Regions from separate parts of the Homo sapiens genome. Here region 1 is linked to region 2. A link means that fine-mapping ties the variant in region 2 to the expression of a gene that starts in the linked region. Tissue or cell type: monocytes after LPS. Region 2 holds a variant in brackets; the other region holds the start of a gene. All regions are shown on one strand. Distances are from middle to middle.

Region 1 (5,195 bases), 900 kb before region 2:
AGGTCCAGGACCACTGCCCCTGTGTTAAGCACCAGCATATATCCCAAGCAGCCAGAGAGCTAAGCAGATGATGAGAATGAGGCCCAAATGCCTCAGCCAGGGAAACTCACTGAAAGTGACACTCCAAAACCTGCACTGCAAAGAAGACACAATCGTGGATGCTTTGGAACAGTGGACTTTCCAGGGAATCTAGAAGGACAGTACCAAGCTGTCAGTTAAGAACGGTCCCGTTTCTAGACCCCATGTCTCAAAAGGAGGCTTGCTCACTGACCTAGGACAGCTGGACTTAGTTCAGGGTCGCTGTCCTTGGCAGTCACCATCCTCCGGGCAGTGAGGAGCTGAAAGACGAAGAAAAGCTCCAAGAAGAGGTTTGGTACCAGGTTCTCTAGATAGATACAAAAAGAAAGCCCATGGTATGGGCACCATTTGGAGCCAAGGCTCAGTTCCAAGTGCCTTACCAATTCTCTTACCCATAAGTTCTACAAGTGTCTCCACTCCCGCTCCCTCCGCTCTCACTCACCAGCAATGCACGAGGAGTAAACAAGGGCTACAAGCTCCAGGCGCTGGCGGGAAGACACTCTGGCAGGGTCTGCAGGTTCATCTGTGAGGCTTCCTGTCCGGCTGGGGAGGGGCGACCCCAATTCTGGGGTGGGACAGGTGGGGGTAGGTGACTGCTGCAGCTGCTTAGAGCTATGGAATAAAGAAATTTCATGAGCAGTCAGCTTGGCTTCCCTGCTACGGCCACACTCAGGTCACTCCAGAGAAGATACCAACAGCCCAGGAGACAAACCCAGAGTCCCCAAGAGGGAAATCAATTTCAGGGAAAACCCCTGAAGATCCCCCACAGCGAGGAAACCGATATCCCCAGGAGCGGCCAGGCCATACCGCTCCTTCCTGAGCATCTCTCGCTCCTCTTGCAGACTTCTGCACCCTGGGGGAAGGCCAAGGCCCCAAGGGCTAGTGTCCAGGGCTGAGGGTTGGGAACTGGGGACACAGCTGATTGGGGGTGAGGTGAAGCAGGTCTTGGGCTTGGAGAGTGACCGCTCTTCGCTCACCGGAGTTGGGTTGATCCTGCGAGAAGGCTTCGTCCTGCTGAGAGTAGCCACAGGTTTTTCTCAAATTCCTATCTTCAAACATCTCCCCTCCACCACCGCAACAGCTAGACCTCTTGCCAAAAAACCCCACAAAAACCCTCACCATCACCCCCAGCCTTCTACCCATCCTGGCGCTCCACTGCGGAGCGCCGAGCTCGAATGACTGACTCCCCAGAGCCTTCGTGGTACCCATCTCCTGCATGAGAGCTGAGTCTCACCCTGTAGGGCCGGGGGGAACCGAGCCTACGGGAGGGAACTCCTCCAGGTTGCTGAGGTTTGGCGGATCAGACAGCGTGAGGCTGGGGCGGCTGGGGCTGCCAGAGCCCCTAAGCCTCCGGCCCCCGGCTCCGGGCAGGCTCTCCCCGCTGACCCCCTCCTCCAGGCCGCGGCCTCCACGCTCGCGGGCCGGCCCCGGGCCCCGCCTCCTGCCCCCGCGGCGGGCCAGAGGGGCCTCGGCAGCGGTGCTCTGGGCCTCGGTCGGAGGGAAAAGCTGGCTGCGCGCCCCGCGGCTACCCCGCGGCGGGCCTCCCGGCCTCCCTGGCAAGGCTGCCGAGGCGCCCGGGGTCTTGGCGGGGGTCGGGGGCCCCTGCGGGAGGACGCGGCTGCTCTGCTCCCTCAGGAAGTTCAACAGGAACGGTACGAATTCTTTCCGCAGGGCCCGGAGTGAGCTCAGCGCGGCCGCCTCCCCAGCGTTATCCTAGGGCAGAAGCACAGGTGGAGGGGCGAGAGGGTCAGCCGCCGGCCCGCGGGCCGTGAGCAGCCGGGGCCGTAGGGCGCGCCTCGGGTGGGCGGCCCGGGCAGCGGCGCCCAGTTGGAGTGCACTCGGCCCGGCTGGCAGCCAGGCGCCCTAGAGGAAGGGGACTGGAGGGCTGGACTCCACTGCGGGAACCGGCTTCGAGTCAGACCTGGGGGCGTGTCACCGCTGTTACCTCCGAACCCTGGGTGCTGCGCGCGATCCACCGCACGACGGCTGCGACCGACACCTCTTCTCGCAGCAGCGACTCCAAAACGGCCGCCATCCCGGTCGGGGCGCTCTGGGGCGACTGCGCAGGCGCCGGCGCGCCGCGGGCGGCCAGGGAGGGGCGGGGCCGGCGGCGGGGAACGACCGTTGGGTCGCGGGATGGGGAGGGACCCGGCTGGCGGGGCGGGGCGGAGCCGGCTGTTGCCCAGACCCACGGAGTCAAGGCCTCGCTGAGTCCTCAACCCCGGCCGAGAGGCCGGTTGTTAGGAGGTGAAATGTGGATCACAGCGCCTGGGGAGGCCCACCTTGGCTGCCCGCCCTGGAGCGACCTGAAGGGAGGGATTCGAGCTGGGAGTGGGGCTGCCGCGGGTCGGACGCCCCTCTAGGGAGACCCAGGACCCGGGAGAGAGGTAGAGGGGAGCAGAGACAGCCACCAGCTTCTATCTTCTGCTCTAAGCACATTCTTTCACGAGTTTAAGTTTCCTAGATCCAACTGGCACCACCCCAGAGAAATTATAATCTAATCTTTCATTTTGACTTTGTTCTTCTCAAAGGCCGATTTTTCAATCCCTTGGCCGAGCAGTACCCATCGGCTTTTCAGCGCTCACCATCAACTGACCATTTAGGAAAGAATTATTTCTAGGAGGTTCTTAATAATCCCCAAGCCACAACCCTTAAAGTGCCTCGGGCCACCCTGCACACAGAATTGCTTGTATGTAGCTTTATTTACTTAAGTGGGTTTACATGAGGTTAATATTTCAACTACTTTGCAGTTTAGATGTCAGTAAGCATATCATGATTAGCTTCTGGGAGCTTGAGGTTTGTATTTTTGGGTTTGGTGTTTTTTGTTTTTGTTTTGTTTTTTTTGAGACAGGGTCTTGCTCTGTTGCCCAGGCTGGAGTGCAGTGGCGTGAGCACGGCTCACTGCAGCCTTGGCCTCCTGGGCTCAAGCAATCCTCCCGACTCAGCCTCCCTAGGGCTATAGCCCAGCTAATGTTTTGGCCGGGAGAGGGCAGCAGATCCAAAGTGCTGGGATTATAGGCGTGGGCCACCACGCCCGGCCTGAGTAATTTCTTAATCTCCTTTATTTAATTTTATTTTGAGATGGAGTCTCGCTCTGTCACCCCCGGGGCTGGAATGCAGTGGGAGGCAGAGGTGGGCGGATCACGAGGTCGAGAGATGGAGACCATCCTGGCCAACATGGTGAAACCGTGTCTCTAATAAAAATACAAAAATTAACTGGGCGTGGTGGCACGCGCCTGTAGTCCTAGCTACTGGGGAGGCTGAGGCAGGAGAATCGCTTGAACCTGGGAGGCGGAGGTTGCAGTGATCCAAGATCACGCCACTGCACTCCAGCCTGGGTGACAGAGCGAGACTCCATCTCAAAAACAAAACAAAACAAAAAAACCTGAGAGAGGATTTTGAAGGTTGCTGCTCAGTGACAAATCAAGCAAGGGAATCCAAGCGGAGAAAAACAGATGGCACGAACATTCCATGTCAAACCAAACCAGGAGGGGTGAGGCAGTGCCCTTGTGAATGCCTCCTGAGAGTTGCTCTGGTTCAAAGGAAGGTTACGGGCGGAAGGATGAGGGTGGGGGTGCAGGAATCTCTCTAGTGGCAGAAGGGGTATTTCCTATGGAGAAGGAAAAAGTACCTCCAGCCAGACAGAATAATGGACTAAAAAGGAGCTTTTAATATTTTAATTTTATTACAGGAAAACATCTCCTAACTGCAGGGACACTTAACACCTAGCTTCTATTCAGTCCTGGGCTGCTTTTTCTAGGGAACTTCTAGATGTGGTACTGCATTTACAGTAACACTATCTGCTCCCCGTTGATCTTGTAACATCTGGTGTATTCAATAACTTTATTAAATTAGAAAAATATTTTCCACTTTTGAAATCCAGACCATCACACAAACAGAACTAGATTTTGCATGCGGAATGAATATTTTATTACTAGGTTATAAAAATAAAATACAAAATAATTTTAAAACAGAACTTAAAACACTGTACAAAGCTTTAATATGATACAAATGGGAAAATTAAATAAATAATTACACTTTTATGTACAGGTGGCCTATACAAAAGCACTCCATGTTTCTGCCGATACTCTGTCCTTGGTTGCCTGAGCAAAATTGTATAAAGGGAGCTGCTTGGAGGGGAAAGGAACACAATAAAACGCCTCTGGAGGTATTTCAAAGAGTAGTTTCTCATCTCTCTGATTTCAGGAAGAGGAGAAGAGAGGGAGAGAAAAGTGGAATTATTAAAGTCATCTAACTCATTGGTCTTGTTCAACAAGAAAGAATTCTGGTTTGTGGCTGAATCTGATTTAACAGCTGCCAATAGCTCATTACTTCTAAGATGTATATCTAATTCAAAACTAGATGCTCCCCCCTCCCTCTTTTTTCCCTAAAAGCTGGGAACTTGTAAGTAAATGGCCTAGTGAAATAGACACTGGCTATTTTAGAAAAAGGGTCAGAAGGTAGACCAGGAACTATGTATCAAGGAGAAGTAAGTGAGGCTCAAGCCCAGGCCACCTAGGCTGTGTTTATTCAGTCCACCCAATCCAATGTCAAAGCCCCAAGTGGGCCAGTGTTACCTTTATCTTCCCATCTTTGTATTTCTGAAAGCTTTGTCACCTCAGTGGACTACTTTGGCTGATGAACAGTTCAAATAGAAGATTGTTTTGGAAAAAGTCCCAAGGGCTTTCCCCTTCCTGGGTAGCTCCCTATAAGTCAAATTCAAGTTCTGGTAGCCTTGTTTACCCCTTGTAGGCGAGTGAAGAATGCCCACACAGAGTTCAGATGTGGTGAAATGCTGGGCATTGATTCCTCAGGATTTAAACTGCATATTATTAGAGAAAAAGAGCATCATATGGCAAGGGTAGTCTATATAAAAACTTGGTTTACTCAATGTTTTTAATTAGGCGAGTGAACACTTATGTACATAATATTAAATAATATTAAACTAATAAAAAGAGAGGTAAAATTCCTATCCATTGTTATTGTAAAATTATATCATCAGCAAATTCTATAGTCACATGGGCTCAAAGATCTGCCTCATCCAATCTTGTTCCCTAGGTCAAGGAACCCAGAGCCAGGGTACCTGGGAGGCATGGTCAGCATCGCCAGTGTACATA
Region 2 (5,000 bases):
TCAGGTGATCCACCTGTCTTGGCTTCTGAAACTGCTGGGATTATAGGCATGAGCCACTGTGCCCAGCCTATTCCCATTTTTCTTTTCTTTTTCTTTCTTTCTTTTTTTTTTTTTTTTTTTTTGAGATGGAGTATTGCTCTGTTGCCAGGCTGGAGTACAGTGGCACTATATCGGCTCACTGCAATCTCTGCCTCCCAGATTCAAGCAATTCTCCTGCCTCAGACTCCCGAGTAGCTGGGACTACAGGCGCCTGCCACCACGGCTGGCTAATTTTTGTATTTTTGGTAGATACAGGGTTTCACCATGTTGGCTAGGATGGTCTCGATCTCTTTACCTCATGATCCACCCGCCTTGGCCTCCCAAAGTGCTGGGATTTCAGGGGTGAGCCACCGCGCCCTGCCCCCATTTTTCAAAAGAGGTAACTGAGTCACAGAAACCAAGCTTAACCACTGGAGTGTACTGCTATTTAAAGATGCCTGATGACAGTGTGGTTTGAATTTGCAAAACCCAGAATAAACATGGAACTAGCTGCCCTAACCTCAAGATCAGAGCTAATACCATTCACTATTCTTTTGCTTTCTCTTTCCCTCTCCCTATTGTGTTCTATTTCAGTTTCTTGGAATAGACTGCACTTTTTATATTACTATACTTTGGACAAGCTTCCTGGTCTCTTAGCCAAATTTTCTCCCCTCACCCAGCTGTCCCCAGCTCTGCTTACGAGAAGAACACATGGTACTCCAGGTCCTGACGAGGTGAACGGGTGTACTCTGAGAAGACGTAGACACCAGTCACAGCAAAAATGTAGAAGAAGATGAGCAGCAACATCAAGAGGAAGGTCATGCTCTAGAGGCCATAACTCTCATGTCAGATGTGGGCCAAACTAGGCTGATCTCCACCAACAGCCCAGTCAAGCTCACCTGGCAATCCCCCACCAAACCCTCTCTTGCACTGCTGAACCCAGTCATCTTTGAACCATGGCACCTGTCCCCAGCCCCTTCTCATCCAATAACATTTCACAGGACGTTTCATTGCCTTCTTTGACCCACCCAGATTTCTTTCATATATTTTTTTTTTTTTTAGACGGAGTTTCACTCTGTCGCCTAGGCTAGAGTGCAGTGGCGCAGTCTCGGCTCACTGCAACTTCCGCCTCCCGGGTTCAAGTGATTCTTCTGCCTCAGCCTCCTGAGTAGCTGGGATTACAGGCACACACCACCAAGCCCGGCAATTTTTTTTTTTTTTTTTTTTTTTTTTTGGTATTTTTAGTAGAGACAGGGTTTCACCATGTTGGTCAGGCTGGTCTCGAACTCCTGACCTCATGACCCATCCCCCTCGGCTTCCCAAAGTGCTGGGATTACAGGCGTGAGCCACCGCACCCGGCCAATTTGTTTCATATTCTATGTTAAGCCCTCACATTTATCTACCTTGCCCCCTGCTTTAGCTTGCAACAGTCAAATCACCTTGAGGGCCCTGACCAGGACCAAAATAATAATTTGAATTTGACGGAATTGTGCAAGGAGTTTGAGAGACCTCAGCACCCGGCAGATCCTCAGAAGCTGAAGCCACACCGATTGGCCTGTTACCCCTACCAATACCACAACCTCGGGAAGCAGGGACTGTGGAAAACACACAGGTTATAAGTAAAATACACCCCAAGGCACCCAGGCAGAATTGCAGCTTCTTCATCTTATCCTCTTCATTGTTCCCTGGGCGTTATCCCTTGAATAGCATTCTCTGAGAAGTGCTTACTATTCAGCCTTTCTATATTAAGTTGCTTAAACACTATACTTAAACTTGTTCAGATATAAAAAGGGGGATAAAATTCATGGTTATTTAATTGGGTTGTTGTGGAGCATAAATGAGATAATGTAAGGAAAACACTTAAAATAATGCTTGGCACTTAGTAAGTGCTCAGTAACCGGCAGATGCTCTTGTTGGCATTGATGTTGTAGTTAGTCTACTTTGCTCCTAATACCAACAACTCCTGCAATGATTGATGTTTAGTTTTAGGGAAAAAAAATCAAAAGAAAGAAGTTAAGTAAATTTTTGTTTCTTCCTATTATCATGTTAACTTGTTCTTTCGATTCACCTAGGCACATTCTTCATCCCACTAAACGAACCCTCAGGATCTCTATCCTTACCAACATGGTAACAACAAAGTCAAAGACATTCCAGGCACTCTTCCAGAAAACAGAAAAGTTGGATAGCCACTTAAGAAGGATCTCCAGGATGAAAATAAGCAAGATAAACCAAGCTGCCACCTCCAAGGTCAGCTTCAATGGCCATAGTTTGGTATTTGTGGATTCCAGCAATTCTGTGA[A/G]GATAGAGCAAAGGAGGAATAAAAGTTAAGGAAGCTGGAAACCGAATGATGGAGAATGAACACACTTATAAACCACAGTTTTGCCCACTACTGTTCCATTTTTCTTCACACTGTGTTAAGAGTTAAGAGTTTCTCTTCTTAACACTGTTGCTTCAACCTGTGAAATACAGGGAAGGACAGAATTGACCATAAAACACAGCCACAACCAATCTGTTCATATAGTTATGTCTGCCCAGCTACAAGTCACTTGCGATCCACTCTGGGGCTCACACAGCTACTAAGAGAGTACTCTCTTTAATTACCCCTACCTCCAAACCCCACCCCCATCTACTGTACTGTTATCTCAGTCCCAAAGTTCACAAGAAAGCAATGGGTCTTGAGAACAGAATGAAAATACAGGGCCATGATATCTGAACTACTTTATAACGAATGTAGAAACAAGCCACAATCATTAGGGTATATCGAATTATAACAATAAATCACTTGGTTCTGTTAGCTTTCTTTTAAAACTTTTCCTTTCTTCCCTGCCTAAAATTTTGCTCTGCAAAGCAAACTGAATGCAAATTTCCTCTCTAGAAACCTATTATTTACTTTTGTTTTGTTTTGTTTTTTGTTTTTTGTTTTTTTTTTTGAGATGGAGTTTCGCTCTTGTTGCCCAGGCTGGAGTGCAATGGTGCGATCTTGTCTCACTGCAACCTCCACCTCCGGGGTTCAAGCAATTCTCCTGCCTCAGCCTTCCGAGTAGCTGGGATTACAGGCATGCACCACCACACCCGGCTAATTTTGTATTTTCAGTAGAGATGGGGTTTCTCCATGTTGAGGCTGGTCTCAAACTCCTGACCTCAGGTGATCCGCCCACCTCAGCCTCCCAAAGTGCTGGGATTATAGGCGTGAGCCACCACACCTGGCCGAAACCTATTATTTACTAATTGCTATTCCTTAATTCATTGCCTTTCTCTTTCAACCTTCTTCATCTCTTTTATACAATGAATGGATGTATGCCATACCCTTGGAAAAAAAAAAAACACTCAGATTATAATAGGCTTAAGAGCTAAATAGAAATCAACATTGTGGTGCTCTGGCTTTAAAGTCATCCTGATGCTGAACTGAATCCAGACAAAAAGAACAGAACAATACTTCAATCATCCCTAGAATTTTACAGAGGTTGGCCCCTTCTAAAAACCAATGGAGTTACGCTATACTTATTTCTATGCTTGTTTTGAGAGAGAATCTCACTCTGTCACCCAGGCTGGAGGAGTGCAGTTGCATAATCACGGTTCACGGAAGCCTGGCTCTTCCGGGCTCAAGAGCCTCTGGGTAACTGGGACCACAGGCACATGTCACCATGCCCAGCTAATTTTTTCTTTAAATTACTTGTAGAGATGGGGTCTCCCTATGCTGCCCAGGTTGGCCTCAAACTGCTGGGCTAAAGCGATCCGCCCGCCTTGGTCTCCCAAAGTGCTGGGGTTATAGGCATGAGCCACTGCACCCAGCACTCCTATGCTTATTTAGGCTCTGTACTTCTGTAAGTTTTTCTTTCACGTAAGTTTCTCTAAGACGGACAATTTTTCACATTTTAACATACATGAAATTAGGATGCTTTTTTTTTTTTCTTTGAGACACAGTCTCGCTCTGTTGCCAAGATGGAGTGCAGTGGTGCAATCTCAGCTCACTGCAACCTCCGCCTCCTGGGTTCAAGCGATTCTCCTGCCTCAGCCTCCCAAGTAGCTGGGACTACAGACATGCGCCACCATGCCCAGCTAATTTTTGTATTTTTGGTAGAGACAGGGTTTCACCATGTTGGCCAGGATGGTCTCCATCTCTAGACCTCGTGATCTGCCCACCTCGGCCTCCCAAAGTGAGGATGCATTTTACAACCAGCGATGTGTCCCAGTTTAATTGAGCATGATTTTTATTTCTTATTGGTAAACAGTGAATTTCACCATTGATGACAGCTTAAATTCAATAAAATACAAAATTTTTTCACTTAACAATAAATTCTAGCTCTCAGGAGCATGGGATTATATAATTAGAAAGAGCTGAGGACCACATTTGTGGCTGGAAAATAGAATGCTATAATTTTTATTCAGTTTTTGCCCTTGCAAAACAGGAACCCAAACAGAGCAATGAAGTAAAATAAGGCTCTTGTAAAGCAGAATATAGTTTTGAGTAGTTTAAAATAGTTTAAGTAGGGAAGTCCAAATTATAGAAGCAGTAGCACTTTTACTCTCTGGAAAAATGAATAATTTTATAGAAGCTAAACAAACCCAAGGAAGTTCAGAGGAACGAATAGCAGAAATTGCCTCAGCAGCACAGAATGTGCAGAAGTGACTGCCTCCACTCTACATCAAGTAATGTGTCCTCTCTGAAGATGAAAAATAACTTTTTAAAATTCTTGGAATTTTTCAGGCTGCTATAGCAAGGCAAAGGAGTCTTAATGGAAATAGAGACCAGGAGCCCAGTGAAGTCTACCCAGGAATCTTAGCCAGTGAAGTGAAGTAGCAGTGAACATCTATGCTTCAATATTCTTCTCAGGGTGACAGACAGTAGCCATTTGATCAAGCAAGTCAGGCAAATATATAATTCTGTTTTACAGGGTAGAGTTCACCATGAACAGTCATCTATTGCTACTCCCTATTCTAGAAAAACAACAGTAGGTCACCTCACAGAATACCAGGTAAAT

Evidence for each region. PIP is the estimated chance that this variant, and not a neighbour inherited with it, causes the effect.
Region 1: CDAN1 starts here. The variant in region 2 is fine-mapped to the expression of CDAN1 in monocytes after LPS (Quach 2016, PIP 0.93).

Annotation. Positions count from the first base shown.
Region 1 is chr15:42,734,990-42,740,184 of GRCh38, forward strand. CDAN1 (codanin 1) reads right to left here and starts at 2,139. Exons shown (of 28, transcript NM_138477.4): 1 at 2,024-2,139; 2 at 1,313-1,791; 3 at 886-1,089; 4 at 521-690; 5 at 272-385; 6 at 111-189. The coding sequence starts at 2,113. It overlaps TTBK2 (tau tubulin kinase 2), which reads right to left. Exons shown (of 15, transcript NM_173500.4): 15 at 3,741-5,195. TTBK2-AS1 (TTBK2 antisense RNA 1) reads left to right here and starts at 4,129. Exons shown (of 3, transcript NR_186317.1): 1 at 4,129-4,246. RefSeq lists silencers at 1,366-1,655, 1,746-1,885, 2,076-2,325.
Region 2 is chr15:43,638,186-43,643,185 of GRCh38, forward strand. It overlaps CATSPER2 (cation channel sperm associated 2), which reads right to left. Exons shown (of 13, transcript NM_172095.4): 5 at 2,139-2,311; 6 at 1,458-1,613; 7 at 719-843. It also overlaps the pseudogene PPIP5K1P1-CATSPER2. Among named protein-coding and RNA genes, the nearest start is that of CATSPER2, 8.2 kb to the right of the region's middle. RefSeq lists enhancers at 311-440, 491-1,020. The variant A/G (reference allele first, on the strand shown) is at 2,318.